Regions from separate parts of the Homo sapiens genome. Here regions 1, 2, 4, 5, 6 and 7 are each reported to be linked to region 3. Evidence: microRNA targets listed by miRTarBase, many of them from high-throughput screens and not tested one by one. Region 3 holds a microRNA gene; each other region holds the end of a gene's coding sequence.
The links. Region 3 holds the annotated microRNA hsa-miR-1343-5p (UGGGGAGCGGCCCCCGGGUGGG, at 1,132-1,153, shown strand). A microRNA usually pairs through its seed, bases 2 to 8, with sites in the 3' UTR of a target mRNA and lowers its output. Matches are read on the target gene's strand: a 7mer-m8 pairs with bases 2 to 8, a 7mer-A1 pairs with bases 2 to 7 and ends in A, and an 8mer does both.

Region 1: miRTarBase lists UBFD1 as a target of hsa-miR-1343-5p. Seed matches in the 3' UTR shown: 7mer-m8 at 2,675-2,681 and 8mer at 2,758-2,765.
Region 2: miRTarBase lists PSMD3 as a target of hsa-miR-1343-5p. Seed matches in the 3' UTR shown: 7mer-A1 at 393-399.
Region 4: miRTarBase lists MNT as a target of hsa-miR-1343-5p. Seed matches in the 3' UTR shown: 8mer at 1,638-1,645.
Region 5: the mRNA of AMOTL2 is a reported target of hsa-miR-1343-5p. Seed matches in the 3' UTR shown: 7mer-m8 at 1,939-1,945.
Region 6: miRTarBase lists ARL8A as a target of hsa-miR-1343-5p. Seed matches in the 3' UTR shown: 7mer-m8 at 2,659-2,665 and 7mer-A1 at 1,928-1,934.
Region 7: the mRNA of TMEM81 is a reported target of hsa-miR-1343-5p. Seed matches in the 3' UTR shown: 7mer-A1 at 1,048-1,054.

Annotation. Positions count from the first base shown.
Region 1 is chr16:23,569,912-23,573,258 of GRCh38, forward strand. It overlaps UBFD1 (ubiquitin family domain containing 1), which reads left to right. Exons shown (of 7, transcript NM_019116.3): 7 at 569-3,347. The coding sequence ends at 679. Among named protein-coding and RNA genes, the nearest start is that of UBFD1, 14 kb to the left of the region's middle.
Region 2 is chr17:39,997,356-40,000,663 of GRCh38, forward strand. PSMD3 (proteasome 26S subunit, non-ATPase 3) reads left to right here. Exons shown (of 12, transcript NM_002809.4): 11 at 1-25; 12 at 149-604. The coding sequence ends at 226. Among named protein-coding and RNA genes, the nearest start is that of PSMD3-AS1, 16 kb to the right of the region's middle.
Region 3 is chr11:34,940,720-34,944,066 of GRCh38, forward strand. It overlaps MIR1343 (microRNA 1343), which reads left to right and starts at 1,118; the gene lies at 1,118-1,201. The region is part of intron 2 of PDHX (pyruvate dehydrogenase complex component X); the gene reads left to right.
Region 4 is chr17:2,384,086-2,387,085 of GRCh38, reverse strand. It overlaps MNT (MAX network transcriptional repressor), which reads left to right. Exons shown (of 6, transcript NM_020310.3): 6 at 1-3,000. The coding sequence ends at 185. Among named protein-coding and RNA genes, the nearest start is that of MNT, 15 kb to the left of the region's middle. RefSeq lists an enhancer at 279-1,103.
Region 5 is chr3:134,355,051-134,358,050 of GRCh38, forward strand. It overlaps AMOTL2 (angiomotin like 2), which reads right to left. Exons shown (of 10, transcript NM_016201.4): 10 at 297-2,713. The coding sequence ends at 2,655. Among named protein-coding and RNA genes, the nearest start is that of MIR6827, 11 kb to the right of the region's middle.
Region 6 is chr1:202,131,746-202,134,745 of GRCh38, forward strand. ARL8A (ARF like GTPase 8A) reads right to left here. Exons shown (of 7, transcript NM_138795.4): 7 at 1,659-2,771. The coding sequence ends at 2,722. It overlaps GPR37L1 (G protein-coupled receptor 37 like 1), which reads left to right. Exons shown (of 2, transcript NM_004767.5): 2 at 1-1,847. Among named protein-coding and RNA genes, the nearest start is that of GPR37L1, 10 kb to the left of the region's middle.
Region 7 is chr1:205,080,932-205,084,278 of GRCh38, reverse strand. It overlaps TMEM81 (transmembrane protein 81), which reads left to right. Exons shown (of 1, transcript NM_203376.2): 1 at 1-1,150. The coding sequence ends at 726. Among named protein-coding and RNA genes, the nearest start is that of TMEM81, 1.9 kb to the left of the region's middle.

The DNA of each region.
Region 1 (3,347 bases), not on the chromosome of region 3:
ATATGGACCCAGTTGATACCTCTTTAAAAAGAGCTCCAGTATTGGTGTGACTAAGCCTTGTCACTTTGAATTCTGCATTCCCTTACTGATGGATATGTAGGTTGCCCCAGGTTTTTGTGGTTTCAGACAGTGCTGCAATGAACATTCATACCTGTTTTCTTGAGCATGTGTGACAGGTTTTCTAGGGCAGCGTTTCTCCAACTGTGGTCCCTGGATCAGTAGTGTTGCATCACCTGGGAGCTTGCTAGTTTCTCAGGCCCCACCCCAGACCTCCCCAAATTAGAAACTTCACAGGGTTGGAGCCTGCTGATCCATGTTCCAGCAAGCCCCCCGGATGGCTCTGATGACCACTCAGGTTTGAGAACTGCTGCTTTAGGGTTGGCTCAGCTTAACCCTCAGCCTGCCTGTTTTTGTTTTTGGTTGGGAGAATGCTCCCCACGTGCAAAGTTTTGTTTGGTTTTTCTTCCCTTTTTAATTAACTCACATCCCAACCCTCACCCATGTTTGTCCTGCCTGCTTGGTCTCCCGACCTCTGAAGTACCGCTTGGTTTTCCTTTTTCCCTTCCAGGCGTTTCAGTTGGGCCCCACGGAAGCCTCTTACTACTGGGTGTACTGGGTTCCAACTCAATATGTGGATGCAATCAAAGACACTGTGCTGGGGAAATGGCAGTATTTTTGAAAGCACTTTCACCTCTGGCCCAGGAGACTGACCCAAAGTGAAGGACATTGCCGGGAGAGGCCTGCAGCATCCCTGGATTTCAGAGTTCTGGAACTTTGTTCATAAAAAATCTATATTCAATCTGAGGTGATGTGGTGACTGAAGCCAGAGGTGATGTACTTTCACCATTAGCTTAATTTTAACTTAAAATTACCAGTTCCCTTTCTTGCAGTCAGCTTCATACCATTTTTAAAGTCAATACGATGGAAATCAATAAATCTGAATTCCGAACATGTTGTGTGGAATACTCTTAAGTGTGTTTGAGAGTAGATCTGCCAATTATGTTGACAAGGGAATGATCAAAAGCTTTGTTTTTTTTAAAAAAAAAAAAAGCAGTTTCAATTGAAATATTTTCATACATCTTTGGTTGCAAACATTTGGACTGCATTGCAATGAGTTGGGGTGTTTTTTTTTTCCTTTTTTGTATAAAATTGTATGCAAAATGGGGGTGGGTTAGTAAGCCACATATTTCTGTCCATTGATTCAGATTTAATTCTTTCCCTTTTTCATTCTCTCGCTTCCTCAATTTGAGTTTTTGTTTTAAGAACCCAAAGATGTCAGTTCTTCTTTTGGTACCTCATCAACGCTTCCTTTCCTGGGCTCCCTCCCGCCGTGCTGCTGCTGCCTGTGAACGCACGGTGGGAGAGGAAGAGCTGCTCAGTCTTGGGCAAGGAGCTCTCACACTTGCTGTGGTGTTCGTTGAGCAGCAGAGTATCTCCCAGTGACTCCTGTTTAAATGTCTTGCCCTTTGGGCCCCCATCTCCAAGGAGTTCCATTGCTGGTTGGATGATTGTCTGCACCCCTCACTGAGCTTGGCCTAGAGGCCCAGCCTGGCATGGTTGTGCCTGGGCTGTGCCGCTCAACAGCCCCAGCTCCCAAGCAGACAAAGACCTCTTCCAGGAGGAGCCAGGTAGAAGATAGTTATACAGCCATATAGCTGCAGATCCAGATAACCTTCTTTCTTTGGAAGTTTTCAAGAAATTCTTAAGCAGTCCAAGGATGATTTCAATTATGCTTCTCCATTGGGTCCTTCTGCTCATGCATTCAGTTCAAGTGTCCTTTATCCCAGGTTCAGAGATGCTGCCTTTCTGAAGAAGACATCTGACCCTAGCAGGTTGGCCAGTGTTATTGAACAACAAAAATGGGATAAATTGCTTTCATGATTAGCTCACCTTCTTCTGGTTTTAGCCCTTCTGTTCTCTGTACACGTGAACTTCTGTCATCTCCTTCTGGCTTGGTTGCCTCTGAAAGGAGGGAAAGTCTCTTGGTAAATTATCTCTTTTGTGCTGTTTGCTGTTTCTCTGCTGCCGTCTTTGCAGTTCTCCTCTCACTGGTTGCAGGCTTTCATAGTAAGGTTTGGCGAGAAATGTTCCAAACATCACATTTTGGATTCTAGGCTGTCACCCCTCATTCTGTGAAACGTATTAGCATGTGTTCGCCCAAGATGACTATTCCTTGTGAGCCAGTTAATGATGATATTCTACGCCCTTCCCTTCTAAGCTGTAGTTCAGGAATCCAGCCCACATAGACAGACTCTTGCTTTCCATGGTGTAGTCAATGCCAAGTGATGCATCTAGGCAGGAAAATCTACTCTTTGCTTTTTTGGGGGCAATTAGTACATTTGTGAAGTGCAGCATCCAAGAAACAGCCTGTTTTTTCATCCCTTGAGAAAGGAGCAGTCATTGCAGCTTTTCTGTCCTTGTCGGCCTGCAGTTCCTGGGGAAAAGAGTACATCTGAGCTACTTGTCCAAGCCTCTGTCTGCAGGTGACAGGTTTTGGGGGAAATGAGATGCATTAAGTAGAACATCATCTCGGGTCAGACATTGCCCCTTTTGTTTGCCAATGCCCCAGTCCTAGAGACTTGTCCTGACAGTGCCGCACACCTACTTTTGATCTCTCAGAGCAGGTGGCTCCATCCCCAGACTAGCCTGGCTGCTCTCCGAGGCCCCTCCACCTGCTCCCCTTATTGCCCCATTCTTGTGGCTTGCCGGGCCACTTGGCCTCCCTTCTTGCCGGTGACAGCGTTCCATCATCTCCCCGCTCCCCAAGGGCCAACTGCTTCTCACTCAGGCTGGTGTCATTTCAGGAGGACCAAAGCCTGCGTGAGCCTTTTTATTTTCAGTAAAATGGTGCTTTTTTCCTTACTTCGAGATACTATATATAAATAATAATGTAAATGACACCTTTTCGTACGGAGCTGTTTGAGTATTGCTTTACAGAGCTCACTAAATCAGCTTCAACAATCTTGAGCTCTGTGGCTCCTCACCCTGTCTGCATGGAAGACCTTGCTGGACGCTCTCGGGAGAGCAGACATAGCACCAGAAGCCACTGGGAGAAGTGTTTTCGATCCGTGTCTGGGCCACAGTAGTATTCACTGTTTAGTCTTTGAGTTCCGTAAGCAGTCTCTTCATACATTTCTTACAGTCTGGAGTGTACTGACTAAATCTGTGTAAGCAAATTGAAATACTCTTTCTTTTAGGTAGCGTCACAGTGGTTTTTTTTTTCCTCAGGATAATTTCTATACAATTTCCTTACTGTCAGAGGGACCAGATCTTTCCCTCACTGTGGCAGGGGCCGTGCAGGTGGATAAAGGAAGAGCTGGTTTCCGGAGAGTGACTGTAACAGCGTT
Region 2 (3,308 bases), not on the chromosome of region 3:
CAACAAGGACTTGGAGTCTGCAGAGGTAAGCTCTCTGCTTTCTGGGTGAGACCGAAAGGTCAAACTTCCACACAGAAGGGGAGTCGGGCGAGTGTCTGGAAGGGCTGAGCTGCTCTGAAGCTTTGGCCTCACTTGCCTCTCTCCCCAGGAACGGCGTGAGCGAGAACAGCAGGACTTGGAGTTTGCCAAGGAGATGGCAGAAGATGATGATGACAGCTTCCCTTGAGCTGGGGGGCTGGGGAGGGGTAGGGGGAATGGGGACAGGCTCTTTCCCCCTTGGGGGTCCCCTGCCCAGGGCACTGTCCCCATTTTCCCACACACAGCTCATATGCTGCATTCGTGCAGGGGGTGGGGGTGCTGGGAGCCAGCCACCCTGACCTCCCCCAGGGCTCCTCCCCAGCCGGTGACTTACTGTACAGCAGGCAGGAGGGTGGGCAGGCAACCTCCCCGGGCAGGGTCCTGGCCAGCAGTGTGGGAGCAGGAGGGGAAGGATAGTTCTGTGTACTCCTTTAGGGAGTGGGGGACTAGAACTGGGATGTCTTGGCTTGTATGTTTTTTGAAGCTTCGATTATGATTTTTAAACAATAAAAAGTTCTCCACAGTGCTTTGTGCATCAGTTACTATACTTCACTGCAGTATTGGCAGGCTCAGATTTTGGGTTTTTTGGCCTTAGAGTACTAGCCCCAGGTGTGTAATCTGAGGGCGATGGGTCTGCAGATGGGGAGGTGCCCAGGGGAGGATGAAGGGACCCTGACCTGGGGTCGGGGGCCTAGGTTTACTCTCTTTTCGTACTTGTGTGGCTTTGGTAAGGTCTTGTTAGGAAAGGTGTACCATGTGTCCATCACCAGCTGCAGACCTTCATCTCCCAATACACCTCATGGTGCTTCACGGTTATTGCAGTTTTTACAAATTGAAGGTTTGGCCAGGCATGGTGGCTCATGCCTGTAATCCCAACACTTTGGGAGGCTAAGGTGGGCGGATCACTAAAGGTCAGGAGTTTGAGACCAGCCTGGCCAACATGGCAAAACCCCGTCTCTACTAAAAATAAAAAAATCAGCTGGGCATGGAGGCAGGCGCCTGTAATCCCAGCTACTTGGGAGGCTGAAGCAGGAGAATTGCTTGAACCCGGGAGGTGGAGCATGCAGTGAGCCAAGATCTCGCCACTGCACTCCAGCCTGGGCAACAGAGTGAGACTGTGTCTCAAAAGAAAAAGAAAAGGACAAATTGAAGGTTTCTGGCAACACTGCATCAAGCAAATCTGTCGGTGCCATTTTCCCAACAGCATGTGCTCACTTAGCGTCTCTGGGTCACATTTTGGTAAATCCTCTCGATATCTCAAACTTTTTCATTATATCTGTTATGGTGATGTGTGATCGGTGATCTTTGATGTTACTATTGTCATTGTTGGGGCACCACAAATTGCACCCATATAGGATGGTGAACTTAGCCGGGCACGGTGGCTCGCGCTTGTAATCCCAGCACTTTGGCAGGCCGAGGCAGGTGGATCACCTGAGGTCAGGAGTTCAGGACCAGCTTGGACAACATGGGGAAACCCCGTCTCTACTAAAAATACAAAAAACAGCCGGGTGTGGTGGCAGGCGCCTGTAATCCCAGCTACTTGGGAGACTGAGGCAGGAGAATTGCTTGAACCCAGGAGGCGGAGGTTCCAGTGAGCCAAGATCGTGCCATTGCACTCCAGCCTGGGTGACACAGTGAGACATTGTCAAAAAAAAAAAAAAGATGGTGAACTTAATAAATGTCGAGTGTGTTCTCACTGCTCACACTGCTCACTCCATTCCCTGTCTCTCTCCCTCTTCTTGAGTCTCTCCATGCCCTGAGACACAAAATAATATTGAAATTAGGCCTGTTAGTAACCCTACAATGGCCTCTTAAGTGTTCCAGTGAGAGAAAGAGTCATTGGCCAGGCCTGGTGACTCACGCCTGTTATCCCAGCACTTTGGGAGGCCAAGGCTGGTGGACCCCTTGAGCTCAGGAGTTGGAGATCAGCCTGGGCAACACAATGAAACCTTATCGCTACAAAAAATATAAAAATTAGCTGGGCATGTGGCACGCACCTGTAGTCCCAGCTACTAGGAAGCCTGAGGTGGAAGGAGCCCTTGAGCCTGGGAGGTGAAGGCAGAGGCTGCAGTGACCTGAGATCCTGCCACTGCACTCCCACCTGGGCGACAGTGAGACCCTGTCTCAAAACAAGAAAACAGAAAAAGGGAGAAAGAATCACACATCTCTCACTTTCAATCAAAAGGTCAAAATGATTATGCTTAGTGAGGAAGGCATGTTGAAAGCTGAGAGAGGCCAAAAGTCAGGTCTCCTGCACCAAACAGGTAGCCAAGTTGTGAAGGGGGAGTTCTTTAAGGAAATTAAAAGTGCTGCTCCAGGTTGGGCACGGTGGCTCACAACTGTAATCCCAGCACTTTGGGAGGCTGAGGCGGGCAGATCACAAGGTCAGGAGTTCGAGACCAGCCTGGCCAGCATGGTGAAACCCCGTCTCTACTACAAATACAAAAACTAGCCAGGCATGGCAGTGGGCGCCTGTAATCCCAGCTACTCGGGAGGCTGAGATAGGAGAATCCTTGAAACCGGAAGGCAGAGGTTGCAGTGAGCCGAGATCACACCACTGCACTTCAGCCTGGGTAACAAAAGCGAAACTCTGTCTCAAAAAAAATGTTTTAAAAAGAGTTCGAGACCAGCCTGGCCAACATGGCAAGACCCCATCTCTACTAAAAATACAAAAAATTAGCTGGGCGTGGTGGTGCATGCCTGTACTCCGAACTACTTAGGACGCTGAGGCAGGAGAATCGCTTGAAGTGGGGAGGCGGAGGTTACCATGAGTCAAGATCGCACCACTGCACTCCAACCTGGGTGACAGAGCGAAATTCTGTCTCAAAACAATAAAAAATAAAAATGATAAATTAAATTAAAAGTGCTGCTCTAGTGGACACACAAATGATATGAAAGCAGAATAGCATTATTGCTGATACGGAGAAAGTTTGAGTCTGGAAAGAAGATCAAATCAGCCACAACATTCCTTTAAGCCAAAGCCTAGTCCGGAGAAAGGCCCTCACTCTCTTCAATCCTTTGAAGGCAGAGAGAGGTGAGAAAGTTGCAGAAGAAAAGTCAGAAGCTAACAGAGGTTGTTTTGTGAGGTTGAAAGAAAGAAGCCGTCTCTGTAACATAAAAGTGCAAAGTGAAGCAGCAAGTGCTGATGGAGAAGCTGCAGTAAGTTATCCATCAGATCTAGCTGATCTCACTGACGAAGGTGGCTACACTCAAAAACAGACTTTCAATGT
Region 3 (3,347 bases):
CTCCCATCTCTATCCCTAGACAATCCGGATCTGTTTTTTGTCTCTAAAGTTTTGCCTTTTGTCTATGTTTCATATAAATAGAAGCATGTAATGTTTGGTCTTTTGTGACTAGATTTTTTCAGATTTAGCATGATTAAGGTTCATCCATGTTGTAGCATTTATCAGCTGTTCATTCCTTTTGTTACTAAATTATATTCCATCATTATGCGTTTTTACATTTATTGCTAAATCTTTGTATTATATCAGAATTTTTAAATTAGTGAATGGAATTATAGATTATAGTTTTATTCAATAGAAGTTTCTGTGGTGATGGAAATGTTCTGTGTTAAACTGTCGAATACAGTAGCTACTAGACTTTAAGAAGCCAGAGGGATGTGTGGGTGGTTGACCTTGTCTAACTGGGCCCTTCTCAAACTCTCCTACTCATGCCTTCACCCCATAGGGCAGGACCTCAACTGGCCTAGCAACCAGGTTGCCTCAGGTCTTTGGCCATGCAAATATTATCCTTCTTTGTGTGTGTGTGAAGTGAAAAGGGATGACAAACACTGACTAGGGGTCCCTCCTCTACATTCCCATTCTGCTGTAGGTACTAATTGGATGGGATTGTCATTGCCTGCTTGTTGTACTGTTCTTCAATCAGATTAGGAACTTCTTGAAGCAGTTCTGTCTTATTTTATTACTATTTTTATCATAGTGTCGCACACAGTGTCATTCACATGGGCAGCTAGTAAATACTTGTAGAGTCAACAATTGAATTATTTTTGTTTCTGATTATTGTTATCATTATGGTTCAACATAGCACTAAGAAGAGGAATTTTTCTTTAATGTTCATGTTAATCTGATAACTTGGTCTTACAGATAAAAACTAGCTCTCTTCCACCACCACCACCACACACATCTTTTACGTAAAGACTTTTATTCTTAATTTTTGGCAGAACAAAATTATTTTGTGAAAGCCTCAGGACTTATTCTATTAATAAAATAAACATCACCATTAACTGTGTTTGACCAAGGCTATGCTTAATATCTAGAATTTAAAAAGAGAAAGGGAAGCCTCCGTATACTTCAGTCCTCAGCTCTGGCAGCTGCCCATCGGACAAAGGAACAGGACGATGATGCTGGCGTCGGTGCTGGGGAGCGGCCCCCGGGTGGGCCTCTGCTCTGGCCCCTCCTGGGGCCCGCACTCTCGCTCTGGGCCCGCTCCTCTTCCGCCACTGCCATGGACCACGAGAAGATGGTGCAGGAACACTCCAGGGCTGCCATCTCTTTCTTCAATCAGTCAGCTATGAACCTGACAGCTGAGAAGCCATCTGTCATCTCACGCTGTCCAGGACCCTCTATCCTAGCTGCTGAGTCTTTTCCACTCTTCTCCACTTTAAACTCTTTGTGGACAGAACCTTCTCTTTTTGTTGTTTTCATACCCAGTGCTTAGTACAGTGCCTTATACATTAATGTTTGTTGGATGATCTGGTAGAAATGACAGAATATGGAATAAATGTGTCCTGATTCTGGTAGAAATGACAGAATATGGAAAAAAACCGTATCTTGATTCAGGTAGACATGACAGAATATGGAATAAATGTGTCTTGATTCAAAATGGTTGTATAGCTAACATTTTATTTTTACCTAGAGATGTTGTAAAGTGTTACATAAAGATGTATGTGAAGCATTAACACTTCCAGCCCCATGACTTAAAAAATATATATCTATACATTTAAAATTTTCCTGAGAGTCAGAGAGATTAAGTAACTTGGTCAAGATCACTAGTAACTGTCAGAGCTTGGAATCAAACTCATATTTGAATTAGGAGAGGTTCCTTGTAACTACTCTGCCAAGGAGTCTTTCTAAGTTATAGCACTAAATTTTTGATCACAGCTGAAACTCAGTAGATTTGAAATATTCATGGCTCATTATTTGCTCTCAGAGTTTTCTTTTGGCATTTACATGATGTTTGATTATTGAAAGATAGAACTTTGGTTTTGTGATGAGTTAGGGGTAATGCTTCCATACGTAATATTACTATGTTTTTAAAACTTCCCTGTGATTTATTGGTAAAGTGTTCTGTGTTTCTTTTCCCTACCTCCCTCTCTTTTGTCCTCTCCTTTTTTCCTTCTCTCTCCTCCTGCTTTTCTCTTCTACCCTCTCCCTTGGCATTCTCATCTAGCTAACATATATGTCTGTGTTATGTGAATAGATATAGTTTTTTAAAAAAGAAAAAAAGGCTATCTTTTTAAATATCAGAAGCATGCTACAAATCAAATGTTAGAAGCAAAAGAAATGTAAAAGATAATTTGATGTATACCTTATGAGGAAATAAGGATTCGTGAAGTTATCATGTTTTTTTCTAAAGCATTTTAATCTAAAATTCATTGGGTATGGTGCATTGGCCATGAAACCTGAGGAATGGGGATGGGAATATAAAACATTTAAGTGTCCTGTCCGTATTGTGAAGAAGCTCATAGTCTAGTAAATAGAGGAAATCACAATTTAAAAAAGTAATTAGCAGTAATATAACATTTTATATGCAATTTGTGATTTTTAAATAAATTAGACCTACTATAGGAATCTGGAATATGAACAAAATTATGTAGGTCAAGTTACTCAGAGAAAGTTATATAGCTGAAGTCGAATCTGTAGTTCTTAAAGTGTGGTTGGAATTTGAATACTGATGAACACAAATGATGATATAGCATCATTTTGTTTTTCTGTGGCTAGAGTCTGTTTTCTAGGCATCTAAGAGGTATTTAATTGCTGGGTTTACTAGTTCTATAGTTTTTCCCGTGATTATAGCAGAAATCTTTGAGGGTGTGCTTTTTTTCCCTTTTGAAGTGCAATCTGTTTTAACCACTAAAACATTTAAAGAAGTATGTAAGATGATATAATCTGACACTGTAGCTTTCTCTATGACATACAAAGGTCATTTTTGGTCTCTTCCTGCATATCTTACCAGCCTAATCTCTCGTCACTTCTCTCGCATACTATTTGCCAGTTTCTCTGAAGTTTCCTGTTCTCTCTGCCTCCAGGGCTATAAGTGTATTACCTTCTACCTGGATCACTGCCTGTTTACAGATTGTCTCCTCCTCACCTCTTCAGGCTCAGAATAGGTGGTCATTGTATTCTAGGAAGCCTTTTCTCACCTTACAAAAACTGAATTAGATGCCCCTCCTGAACATTCCCAAAGCATCCTGACCTCACCTTATCCTGCTGTATTTTCCAGTTTACTTGTCAATGGATATTAAGCAAGCTTCTTGAGGTCAGGAATCTTAAATCTTTGCTGTTATTACTGTCCACTGCTGTATCCTCAGTGCCTACATATGTATATATATTTTATATGTAATATATAAATA
Region 4 (3,000 bases), not on the chromosome of region 3:
ACACCCTCTCGCACCAGCAAGTCAACGGCACGGCCGGCCTGGGGCCCCCGGCTACTGTCATGGCAAAGCCGGCCGTGGGGGCTCAGGTGGTGCACCACCCCCAGCTGGTGGGCCAGACCGTGCTCAACCCTGTGACCATGGTCACCATGCCCTCCTTCCCAGTCAGCACACTCAAGCTGGCTTGAGGACGAGGCCACTCAGAGGCCCCCAGTGGGGACAGGGAGGGGGACCTGTCCCCCACTCTCTCACCCACCAGCTCCACACATTCCAGCCAGGCCCAGGCCAGCCCCCCCACCCACCCCCAGGCCTCCTAGGGGAAGGGGGTGCAAAGACTCTGAGCCAAGGGAGGGAAGGGCCACCCTGCTGCACTAGGACTTGGTAAGATGACTCTGAGAAAATGCGAGACTCTGATGGAATGTGCCACCTGTCCGGCCCAGTGCCAGCTCCAGTGCCGCTCCTGCTTCCCCTCCCTACCCTCGGAAATCAGTGCGATGTGGACGTCACGCTCCCTGACTTCTCCCCCGCCCTGCCCCGCCTTCGTGTGCTGCTGCTGCTATTGCTGTCTGGTGAGGTGGCCCAGGCCCCCGGCTTTCCTCCGGAGCCTCATGTTCTCTTCCCAGGCCTTTGGAGGGGAAATGGGGAAAGCAGAACTGAAGCCACTTGGCCCAGAAAGCTGCGGATTGGGGTGATAAGGGGCCTTGCTCTGAGCACAGGTGACAGATCATAGGAAGTGGCTGGTCTGGAGTCCCACCCGGACAGGTGGGGCCTCAGCCTGGGGCTCTCTGACCCGGTTGCAGTCACTGTGATTCGTTACCGTAGATACTACTTAAAATGATTCTCTACCAACAATAAACCAAACCCAGCCACTGCCAAGCTTCCTGTGCCCTCACCCCAATCCCTGCCACTGGGCTCTGGACCTCAGGAGGGCAGGCTGAGGTGGGGAAGGAGGGACTTGGCTGTCCTTCCCCTTCCCCGTCCCCTGCAGCCTGGGTCTGGATGGGAGGAGAGCCACTGGGCCCCTGTCCCCAGTCCCCAGTCCCCAGCCCTGGGCTTGGCTCTTGGCTTCCAGAAGGCAGCAAAGAGGGGCGCTGTCCTGCGTTCAGCCCCTGATCTCTGACCTCTGCTGAGTGCTGGGCACTGCTCCAAGGGACAGGTGGGCCTGGCGGCCTGTGGGTTTGGGTGCCTCCTGCAGTTTGGGAGACATGGACCAGCATCTGGTCTTGTTTCCAGGAGCATAGAAGCCACATCGTTGAGACATCAGGAAGGTAAAAACCCAGCGGCTTAGCCAAGCCCTAAGCCTGTCCCCAGACCAACCCTGGGACCTATACAGAACAGAGGGCCAGAGCTAGGGCTGCTGCTTCTGCTCCAGCCCCTTTGCCTCTGTCCTCCCATCCCCTCAACACCCTGCTTCTCCCGGGGACGCTTTTGAGTGGGCCCTGCCCGGGGAGCTGCAGAGCAGCAGCACCTTTCTCTGAGAAGAGGTCCTTGGTTGGGTCAAGGACAGGGCTGAGCGTGGAAGGGGGAGGAGTCAGGGGCTCTGTGTTAGGATGCGGCTTTCTCTGCCTCTGGGCAGCCTGCTTTGGCCTTTCCTTGTATGTGGGTGTTTATTACAAGTGGCTTTGTGTCAGACACGCTCGGCTCCCCACCTGGACACACACTCACCAGTGGCCTTTCAGTGTAGCGGGAGGAAGCCGGTGTCCCTGGATGTGAAGCTCACACTGATGGGCTGGGGCAGGGGCCTGGGCCGGCGAGGGGGCCGGGGGGAGGGGACAGAGCTGAGGATTTCCTGGAGTGCCCTGCAGGCACAGAGGAGGTCAGCAAAGGTCTTGAATAGATTTTCTCTGGAAATAAAGAATCCTTAGATGCCTAAAAATTCCCTTCCTGTTCCCTCCTGGTCCTGGACACCTCCCAGGGGACTGTTCCTTATTTCTCTCTCCTGGTGTGGGTAAAGGGACAGTTACAAACCAGGTCACCATCCTCAGAGGCTGAGCCCTGTACCCACCCCAGCACAGCCACCTCCGCCAGACCCCGTGGCTCTGGGAGAGCCAGCTTTGCTATTCCCATTGTGACAGCGATGGCAGGCCTGACCCACGGGGCAGTTAGAGCAGCCTCGTGGAGCTCGCCCCTCCCCTCAGCCTGCCCACCTCTCCCTGCATCCTGAGGCCAGTGGCCCCCGGGCCTGCACAGATACCTCATCATCCACCCGCTGCCCCTCCCCGTCCCTGTCCCCCAGCATCGGGGGCCTGCAAATCTAGTGCCGAATGACTATGTCCAGATTGGTGACGATGGGTGTTGCTGTTTTTCTTGTCGTTTGTGAACGCTGTGATGCTGTGTGCCCAAGTGGGCAGTCACCACCCAGCCCTTCCTTGGGCGTCTCCCCCAGAGTGCTGTCGGGACCACATCTGTCCTCACCCTGTGGGACCGCCTGGCCCTCCCTCCCTAGCCCTTCCAGCCTGGGACACACACACACACACACACACACACACACGCACGCACACGCACACATCTTACCTCTCATGCGTGTTTTACCTTTTGATGTTCAGAGTGGCTCACTGGCTGGGAGTCCTTACCTCGGGGAGAGGGGGAGGTTGGTTCCTTGGGGGGCCAAAGAAGGCAGGGAATGCCTGGAGGGTAACTGGGGGGCCACCATGACCCCTTCTCTCTCCAGAAACAGCTGCTTCTCCCCCCATCCCAGGGTCCCACCCCCAACCCCCAGAGGTGGCCCTTGTTTACAGTGAGGACTCGGCCACTGTGTCTCTGTTTCCTGAAATATAAACTGTAGCGACCCCAGACTGTAGAGATTTTTATGTGTTTGGATACATCTGCTGTGTGGAAAAAAAAAAAAACTACAAAAACCCTAATTTTGTACATACTGTATTTTTACTATTGAACTGTATTCTAGTGGCTGTTCATGCTCCAAGACTTTAGTTACCGAGACATGAATACTATCCATGTAATAAGCACTTGCCTGGAATAAAATATAAAACTGAAATAAACCTG
Region 5 (3,000 bases), not on the chromosome of region 3:
TTGTCTTCATACTTGTGGGCTGGTAGGCCAGCTCGGGAAGACACCTTCTCTAGGATCTCAACTTAGTTACTCATCAACATGGCTCCCGAGTTCCCACATTGGCCCCGAAGACACTTCACTCACGGCCATGGTGGGAAACTGTTCCTGTCACATGTCACGTAGGCTGTCTGGTAGCCTGCTGCTGCCTCATGGCCAGCTAACTGCTGGCCACATGCTGACTGGGAACCTCAGGGTCCTAACACACTTATAGAAGCACAAGACAGGTATTTTGTTTCTGATACAAGAACAAGCAAGACTGAGAATGGCTTTCTTTAATTTTGAATTGGAGCAATATGCTTTCCTGAGCATCAGGAAAGAGTGGTGATGTCACAGCAAAGGAGGGAGGCGGTGGCTAAGAACATGCACATTCTTGAATGTCCTCTGCATGGTGCCTGGCCTTCTGGATGGTTTCGGACAAAACTTTATGTGCTAGGTGGGAGTGGGAAAAGGAGTGGGGGAAGGATAAAGCCATCTTTGGACACCCACTCCCACTGTGGATAACCACAGCGTGTGGCCGAACAAAGCTGATTAGAACACAGCCCTACCTCGGGAGGCTGCCATCTGCCAGGCCCTCCTTCCCCTCCCAGCCTTCAAGAAATGTTATCTATGAAAGGGGAAAAATGCCAGCCACATCCTCATTCCAACTCTATCCTTAATGCAGCTTCACAAAATTCCTAAATTCTATCTTGGGTCCTTGAAGAGATTGGACTATGACTTGGGTGGCCCCCCAAAATCCTCACCCTTTCCCTTCCCTCAGTGCAAAGTCTCACCTGTGCAAAGACATCACTTTTAATTATTTTTTTTTAATTAAAATACTGTTATACCCAGTGGAATGCGGCAGCAATCCTGGTACAGGGTGGCATAACAAAACAGCCATGTTTACATTTTAAATATTTACGATAACTTAAACATACAGACACACATCATGGTCTTTGGCAGAAAATGTTCACAGCACAAAAAATACTTTAAAAGAAATACCAAATATTAATCCAAAATATATTAAGTTGTTTTTTTTCTTTCACAATATTTTTTGCCTTTTTTTCCTCTTTTTTCTTTTTGCTTTGTAAACAATGCACATGAACCAAATGTATTTTTCAGCTTTAAACAGGGGTAGGGGAATTTTTTAAAAAAAATTGCAATTGTCCAGCAAATGCAAATGTTTAAAAAGGAAACTTGAGGAACCATGGAAATAAAACAACACATACCAAACCTAAAAACGATAAAGGAAGAAAACAAAGAATCAAGGAGAACTAAAAACGGTAAAGACAAAACTGCTAAAACCCACCAATAGCTCCTGGGGCTGAAGTGAGGGACTCTTTAAGACCAGAAGTCAAAGTCACTGCTGCTAGCAGGCTGCCATGTGGGTGTTTCACCCCAATTCCAAAGCATCTGGTGCTGCTTTAGGGCGCTGGGCATGGGTAGCTTGAGGAGCCAGCCTCCTGGGCACTGTTTTGTGATGGGGGCTCCATTCAGAGGACTATTTGACTCTTGTAGCTCATTAACTAGTTTTCAACTGCTTTGCTCCTCTCCCAAACCCTCCAGGTGGGAATGAAGACACTTATGCTAACAAGACATCTCCAGTTTCTCAGAAAGAACTGGTACCGGGTAGGGCCACCGAAGCCCACCTGGGGGCATGGCAGATGTCTGTTCACGGTGGCTCATTTCATCTGGCTCAGGGTTTATGACCAAACTGACAGGATGTTCCAGGGACAGGAGCTGTGGAGCCACTTCAAGAGGCTGGTGGTGGGGGTCCCGTGGGCATTTATAGGGCTCAAGATAGAGGAAAAGGCAGCCGAGATCCTGGGAATCGAGCAGCTTTAACATCCACGGGCCAGGAACTTGAGGAGGAGGCATAACTGGGAGGCCAGTCAGAAGTTTCAGAAACTGACAGTAGGAAGAGGGGAGCACAGCCCATGGAGACACATCGGAACCTGCAGGCCTCAGTCTTCTGTTCCACAAGAAAGGGAATTATATACAAACTGCGCACTGTCTCCCAGTCCACTTAAATGGCCCCTCACCCACAGCAAGTGAGAAGGTGAGGCTGTGTCTTCTCCAAGACTAACACCCTTAATAGTCCCCAAAAAATTCAAGTCTTAGTATCCCAAGAAGGCAGTGAGGAACTGAAGAGCAGATGACGTTGGCTGGAACCAAACTTAGCCAGAGAACAATATGGCTGACTTGATTAGTGAACCAGTCCACCTGGTGTCCACGGGCAGCCGTCCGTGGAAATTAGTTCCCCAAACCAACACAGCCACTCCCTCCCTGCCTGACTGACAACTGGCAGGGCAGAGGGAGCTCAGCTCCTTTCTGAGCTGTCAGTTGCTACCCCAGTAGCAGGCCTTGGGCAAGAAGTCAAGGCTGAATCCTCATTCTCCATAAGGCCCGGAGGAATGTGGGCTAAGAAGCAGAGTCTTCTGGGGGTGCCGGTGCTCTCACAGCTCTCCTCTCCCCTGGGGTCCTCCTCCTGAGCTCCTGGGACCAGATGGTCAATGGGAATGAGTGTCTGGCTGGGGAAAGGGACGGAGCAGCGGTTGACGGGGCTGCTGAAATGGCTGAGAGTGGCACAGGGCAGAGGAGGGGAGAGAATGGCTCAGAGTCCTGAAGCACCACCTCCTTCAGATCAGTATCTCCACCATGTCTGACAAGTCCTGGACTCTGGATGTAGCTACAGAGTCTGGAGACAGACAAGAACACAGGCACATGCCAATGAGTGTTACTAGATTGCTTTTAAAATCCTGGCACATTTGAAAGACAAAGATCGTTCTTCACCAACTTTTCCCACCTCTGCTGCCCAGGTTCCCAGAACTCGGCCAACCAAGCACAATGCTCTGCCCCCTTTCAGTGCTCAGCCCAGCCCACCAACCTCCGATGTGTAGGATGCATTTGTTTCTAACTTTGAACTGGTTGGAGGGCTTAGAGAGAGCAATGGAGAGCCCTGAGGGAGGCAGGCTGCAGCATTCT
Region 6 (3,000 bases), not on the chromosome of region 3:
TTTTTTTTTTGAGACAAGATCCCACTCAGTCACTCAAGCTGAGTGCTGTGGTGTGATCACAGCTCATTGCAGCCTCCACTTCCTGGGCTCAAGCGATTCTCCTGCCTCAGCTTCCTGAGTAGCTGGGACTACAGGTGCGCACTACCACGCCTGTCTAATTTTTGATTATTTGTAGAGATAGGGTCTCACTATTTTGCCCAGGCTGGTCTCAAACTCCCAGACTCAAGTCATTCTCCTACCTCGGGCTCCCAAAGTACTGGGATTACAGGCATGAGCACCTGGCCCCTGAACAAATTCTTTAAGTCATATTAGCACCTGCTGCACGCCGGCACTGTGGAAGGAGGATGCTTGCTTGCTTCCTGGTAACCAGCTCTCTTATCTCAAACCTCAATCCTCAGTGAGGATCACAGGATCTGAGAAAGGCACCTTGGCCTGGAAACAGCCCCAGATGAGTGAGATTGCTGGTCCTCTCCCGGGATCCCAGGCCCAGGAAAACCTAGCCATGCTTGCAGTCAGGAGAGGGCAGGGGATAGAGCCCTGGCTCCCATTCAACCTCCTTAGCCAGGAGGACATGTCCCATTTTGCTTAGGAGTTGGGAGGTACCCTAGAATCACTTAGCTTCAGATGCCAAATTCCATCCACATTCTTTCCTCCAACTCTCTGGCAGTGGGGAACTGCCTCTCCAGGCAGGGAACTGCTCTGACAGGTCTGATGACTGCCTCCAGGAGGAAGCCCTGGGCACCAATGAAGGTGAGGGGCTGGAGGGCCCAGGACGGGGAGTCAAGGTCCCCACTCCCAGGACTAAGGGACAGTTTGGCTCCTTTTTCCTGCAGTGGGAGGGGTGAGAAGGGCTGGGGTGTTCTGCAAGGGCCTGCTCCATTTTCCAGGGTGAAGGAGAGGCCGAGGGAGGTGGAGCGGGAGGAGGTGGGGCTTACTGTGAAACTGGGTCAAGATGGCCTCGGATTTGAGCAGGCAGGGTCACCAGGCTCTGAGGCAGCAGCTGTGAGCAGTGCCGAGGGAGGACCAGCTCTGACGGTGAGGTCGGGTGGGGGACTAGAATCCAGCAGAGGAGCGAGGGCAGGGCTCCTACCAGGAAACCCATAGCATTGACACTAACTGAGAGGCAGCAAAGGCGGTGACACTCCCCCAGGCTCTGTGGGCCCAGCCCTACCCCTGAAGCACAGTTAACTGGTTCTGGGGTAGGAACTGGGGGCCGGAGGGACAGGGTTCTGGTTCTGGCTCAACCTTGGCTGCTGGTGAGATCCAGGGCCTGGGAAAGAGGGGCTGAGGCCTGAACTGGGCCTAAGGAGAGTGCAGCTCAGTTCGCACACAACAGCACCCAGCCCTGTCCCCTTGCTGCCTCTACCCAGCCCTGGGCAGTTCCCTCAACAGAGCTCTGCAGCCCCAAGTGGCAGCTGCTGGCTCAAAGCTGGGACTACATGAAAGTCTGAAAAGAGAATGAGAAGGAGGTGGCGCAAGAGCCTGGACGCACGTGTGGGAGGCCGTTTTGTGCAGCGCCATTGTGCTCCCCGGGCGGGCATGTGCTCGCGCTCCGTGGCTCTGTTGGTGCCCAGCGTGCGGGGGTGTGCTGGTGGCCCTGTGGGCCTGTAGGGCAACCCATGCCAACTGCGGAAAAGTAACCAGCACCATACACCCCCCCCAACACAAAACTGGTCATTTATTTTTTTTGTTGTCATTGTTATTAGGAAGCAAAAAAATGTACAGTTACAAGAATCATTTTCCAAACAGAGGTTAAATATGAGCTGAAAAGTGTAAAAAAGGAAGAGGAACATCACTTTACAAATCATTAAATTAAACAAATAAACAAACAGAACCCAAAGAACCAACCCCCCATGCTGAGTTCTCTCCTTGTGCAACTCTGCAAAATGAGAACAGAAAATGAAGTGGGCCGTGGAGGTGGGGGCCCTGGGGAGGGGCGGGAGCTGGGAGCCAGGAACAGGCAGGAGGGGGCTGCTGGGGCATGGACGCTGGCTTTCTGCCCCGTGTGCCTGGTGGTTTCTGGTACCTGGTCGTCGTACCTGGTGGCTCTACCCAGGCTGGGGGTCGAGGGGAGGGGCCCCCAGAGGCCCCTGCCAGCCTGTGGCATTCAAGCACTGCCAGGACAAGCCAGATTGGGCGGTGGAAACACACGGGACAGGGAGGCGGCCACCAGTGCCCAGGCTGGTACCTGCCGCAGGTGCCAGCCTGCACCTCTTCTGATCTGAACTTGCCCCAAGTCCACCTGCGTCTCCCTCCTTCTCTCCAGACTGCCCCCTCCCAGATCCTGAAAGGCCCCTGCAGCATCAAATGGTTGATTTTAGTCTTTGCTTAAATTAAAAAATTAAAATATATATACATATATATACTGTACACACAGGACAATAACAGAGAGTGTTGAAAAGGGAGGTACAAGAGCGGGCCGGGGAAAAGCCAGGGGCGGGGGCTGTGGCCCAGGGCTGCTGGGAGGGAGGCAGGGCTGGGTGATGGGACAAAGGCAGCGGGGAAGGGTGAGAAGTTAGGGGACCAGAATGGGGGGCAATTTATTTTACAATAAAAACAGGAGTTCAAACCTCAGCAGAACAGGACTCTGGGGTCCCCAGAGGGCCCTCCTCACACTGGGTGAGGAGGGGTGGGCTTAGGGGGACGACAGGGGTGGGCGGGGAGCTCGGCTTCAGGTTTAGATGATGACGGTCCCTGGTCTGAGGGAGAAGGGCTGGAGTCTCAGCTTCTCCGTGACTTCGAGTGTTGAATAAGCCACTGTAGGGTGATGTCTGATAGGAGAAAAGAGAACAGCTTATAAGGCCTGCAAGTACTGGCCGTGCTGGGGCAGCAGAGAGGCCCAAGAAACCAAACCTAAGGGTATCAGAAGTCCAGAGATGCCAGGAGGGGTGGCGCACACCTGGAGTCTCAGCTACATGGGAAGCTCAGGTGAGAGGATTGCTTGAACCCAGGAGTGGAGTTGGAGGCTGCAGTGAGCTATGGTCACGCCACTGAACTCCA
Region 7 (3,347 bases), not on the chromosome of region 3:
TTGGCCTTCTACCTGCCTTTGGTGGTGACTACACCTAAAACACTGGCCATCCCTGAGAAGCTGCAAGAAGCTGTGGGGAAAGTTATCATCAATGCCACAACCTGTACTGTCACCTGTGGCCTTGGCTATAAGGAGGAGACCGTCTGTGAGGTGGGCCCTGATGGAGTGAGAAGGAAATGTCAGACTCGGCGCTTAGAATGTCTGACCAACTGGATCTGTGGGATGCTCCATTTCACCATTCTCATTGGCAAGGAATTTGAGCTTAGCTGTCTGAGTTCAGACATCTTGGAGTTTGGACAGGAAGCTTTCCGGTTCACCTGGAGACTTGCTCGAGGTGTCATCTCCACTGACGATGAGGTCTTCAAACCCTTTCAAGCCAACTCCCACTTTGTGAAGTTTAAATATGCTCAGGAGTATGACTCTGGGACATATCGCTGTGATGTGCAGCTGGTAAAAAACTTGAGACTCGTCAAGAGGCTCTATTTTGGGTTGAGGGTCCTTCCTCCTAACTTGGTGAATCTGAATTTCCATCAGTCACTTACTGAGGATCAGAAGTTAATAGATGAGGGATTGGAAGTTAATCTGGACAGCTACTCCAAGCCTCACCACCCAAAGTGGAAAAAGAAGGTGGCGTCAGCCTTGGGAATAGGAATTGCCATTGGAGTGGTTGGTGGCGTGTTGGTGAGGATTGTCCTCTGTGCGCTAAGGGGGGGCCTGCAGCAGTGACAGCTTCAAGAACTTAACAGCCTTGCTCCTGAAGAACTGGCTGCCCAGGAAGCCAAGCTAGCTTTTTAGGGGAGTGTTCCAGCTGCTGGTAGTGGATCAGCTTAGAGGGAACACTCCCACAGCCAAAAGAATGAGTGGGAGAAATGGAGGGGACAATCTCCTGGGAGCTATGCGCAGTAACCTAACTTCCTTATGTCCCATGGATCTCTTCCTGATCTTCCCTGCCCATTGGGTACCCAGGAAACTGCAAGCATTGCCTGTGTTCCTGGGAAGAGTTCTAAGAAGCTTGCATTCATTTTCTACCCTTTATGACTTGGATGCCTCCCCACCTCCATTTCCCCTCTTCTGAGCTGTGTATTCATGTAGAGGGATGTATTCAGCCTTTTTAGTGAACATTTTTTTTCAATAAAAGTAATTCACAGTAGCTGTATGGAGACCTTTTTCTGCTCTTCAGTTTCTTGTATTTATTTAAATTGTCCCATAATCAGTCTGGCTTCATTTTCCTCAGGTTTCTTAGAATAGACATTAAACCAATTGTCTGCTTTTGGGGGCAGGGGGTGCAGTGCATAAGCCTATGGCAGGGGTTGTTAGTAATGACATCCAACTCAGGTGTGTAACAGTCACTAAATATTAACAAATTGCCTGTTCTGCCCAGGTAAATCCCCTGTTTGGTATTAAATTGAATTTCTTGGCAAAACACTAGATCCTTCACCTGGTAGGTTTCCTCTTACCATTCAGACAGCACCTTGGCTTGCCTCCACTCCAGTCCTTTTAGCTCTTTCAGTGCCCTGAAGCTTCTATTCCTGGGAGGGTCAAGTATTGGTTTCTTACAGCAGCCAAGGCCCCCAAAGGAGGATTAGTACTTTGATTCCTCCATAGGAAATCCAGTCTTAAGACTCCGAGGCCATTCGGACCGTGTCTGAGATAATTGGCTTGTGGAACCATCAGGGAAAGACTCTTGGCCACCAGCTGAGCTAATTCTACTGAGAGAATTACAACATTTCTTCCTCTCACTTTTCTCTGACTACAGGAGGTAGCAGAAACCAAAGACCAGCGATTCTCTAGATGTGTGTTAGAATCATCTGGATGACCTTGTGAAAAATAAAGGTTCTTGAGCTCTAATCCTGACAATGCTAATTCAGTTTAAATTATGGTCAAAGGATCTCTATTATTTATTTTACTTTTAACTTGTAAAAATTTCAAACCCATAGAAAAGCTGAAAGAAATGTTTGGTGACCATGCATAGAACCTTTACCAAAATTCACCAGGAATTAACATTTTGTCACAATTATCTTTCTCAATATAGATTGATTTTGTTAAACCATTTGAAAGCTAGTCACAGACATTGCAACTCTTAACTCTTAAACCATGTATGCATCTCCTAATAAGGATGTTCTCTGTAACCACAATATCTTTATCACACTAAGAAAATTAACAATTTCTGGCCAGGCGCGGTGGCTCACGCCTGTAATCCCAGCACTTTGGGAGGACGAGGCGGGCAGATCACGAAGTCAGGAGATCGAGACCATCCCGGCTAACACGGTGAAACCCCGTCTCTACTGAAAGTACCAAAAATCAGCCTGGTGTGGTAGCGGGCGCCTGTAGTCCCAGCTACTCGGGAGGCTGAGGCAGGAGAATAGTGTGAACCCAGGAGGCGGAGCTTGCAGTGAGCTGAGATTGCGCCACTGCACTCCAGCCTGGGCGACAGTGCAAGACTCTGTCTCAAAAACAACAACAAAAAATTAACAATTTCTTTCTTTTCTTTTTTTTTTTTGAGACGGAGTTTTGTTCTTGTAGCCCAGGCTGGAGTGCAATGGTGTGATCTCAGCTCACTGTAACCTCTGCCTCCTAGGTTCAAGTGATTTTCCTGCCTCAGCCTCCTGAGTAGCTGGGATTACAGGTGCCTGCCACCATGCCTGGCTAATTTTTTTGTATTTTTAGTAGAGACGGGGTTTCGCCATGTTGGCCAGCCTGGTCAAACTCCTGACCTCAGATGATCCACCTGCCTCGGCCTCCCAAAGTGCTGGGATTACAGGTGTGAACCACTGGACCTGGCCAAAATTTAACAATTTCTTAATCTTATATAGTTTATACAAGTTGAGCATCCCAAGTATGAAAACCTGAAATCTGTAATGCTCCAAAACTTGAAACTTTTTGAGTACCAACATGGTGCTCAAAGGAAATGCTTATTGGAAGAGCTTAGATTTCGGATTTCTTGGATTTGGGATGCTTAACCTATAAGTATAATGCAAAGATGCCAAAATCTGAAAAAGTCTGAAATCTGGAACATGTCTGGTCCCAAACATTTTGGATAAGGGATACTCAGCCTGTATTCACTTCTCAATATCCAAAATCTTAACAGCTTTTTAATTTCATTTTTGATCCAGGATCAAATAGAAGTTCATGTGTTATGTTTCTCTTAAGTATCTTCTTTTACAACAGACCTCCTGCATTCCTTTGTCTTTCATGACATTGATTTCGTTGAATAATTTACTCCAGTTGTCTTAGATAAGATTCCATAATTTGTATTTGCCATTTCCTCATGAGTAGATTCATGAGGAATGAATCTTAAACATTTTTGACAAGAGCCCTATGTAGATATGTACTTAACTGCACCACAT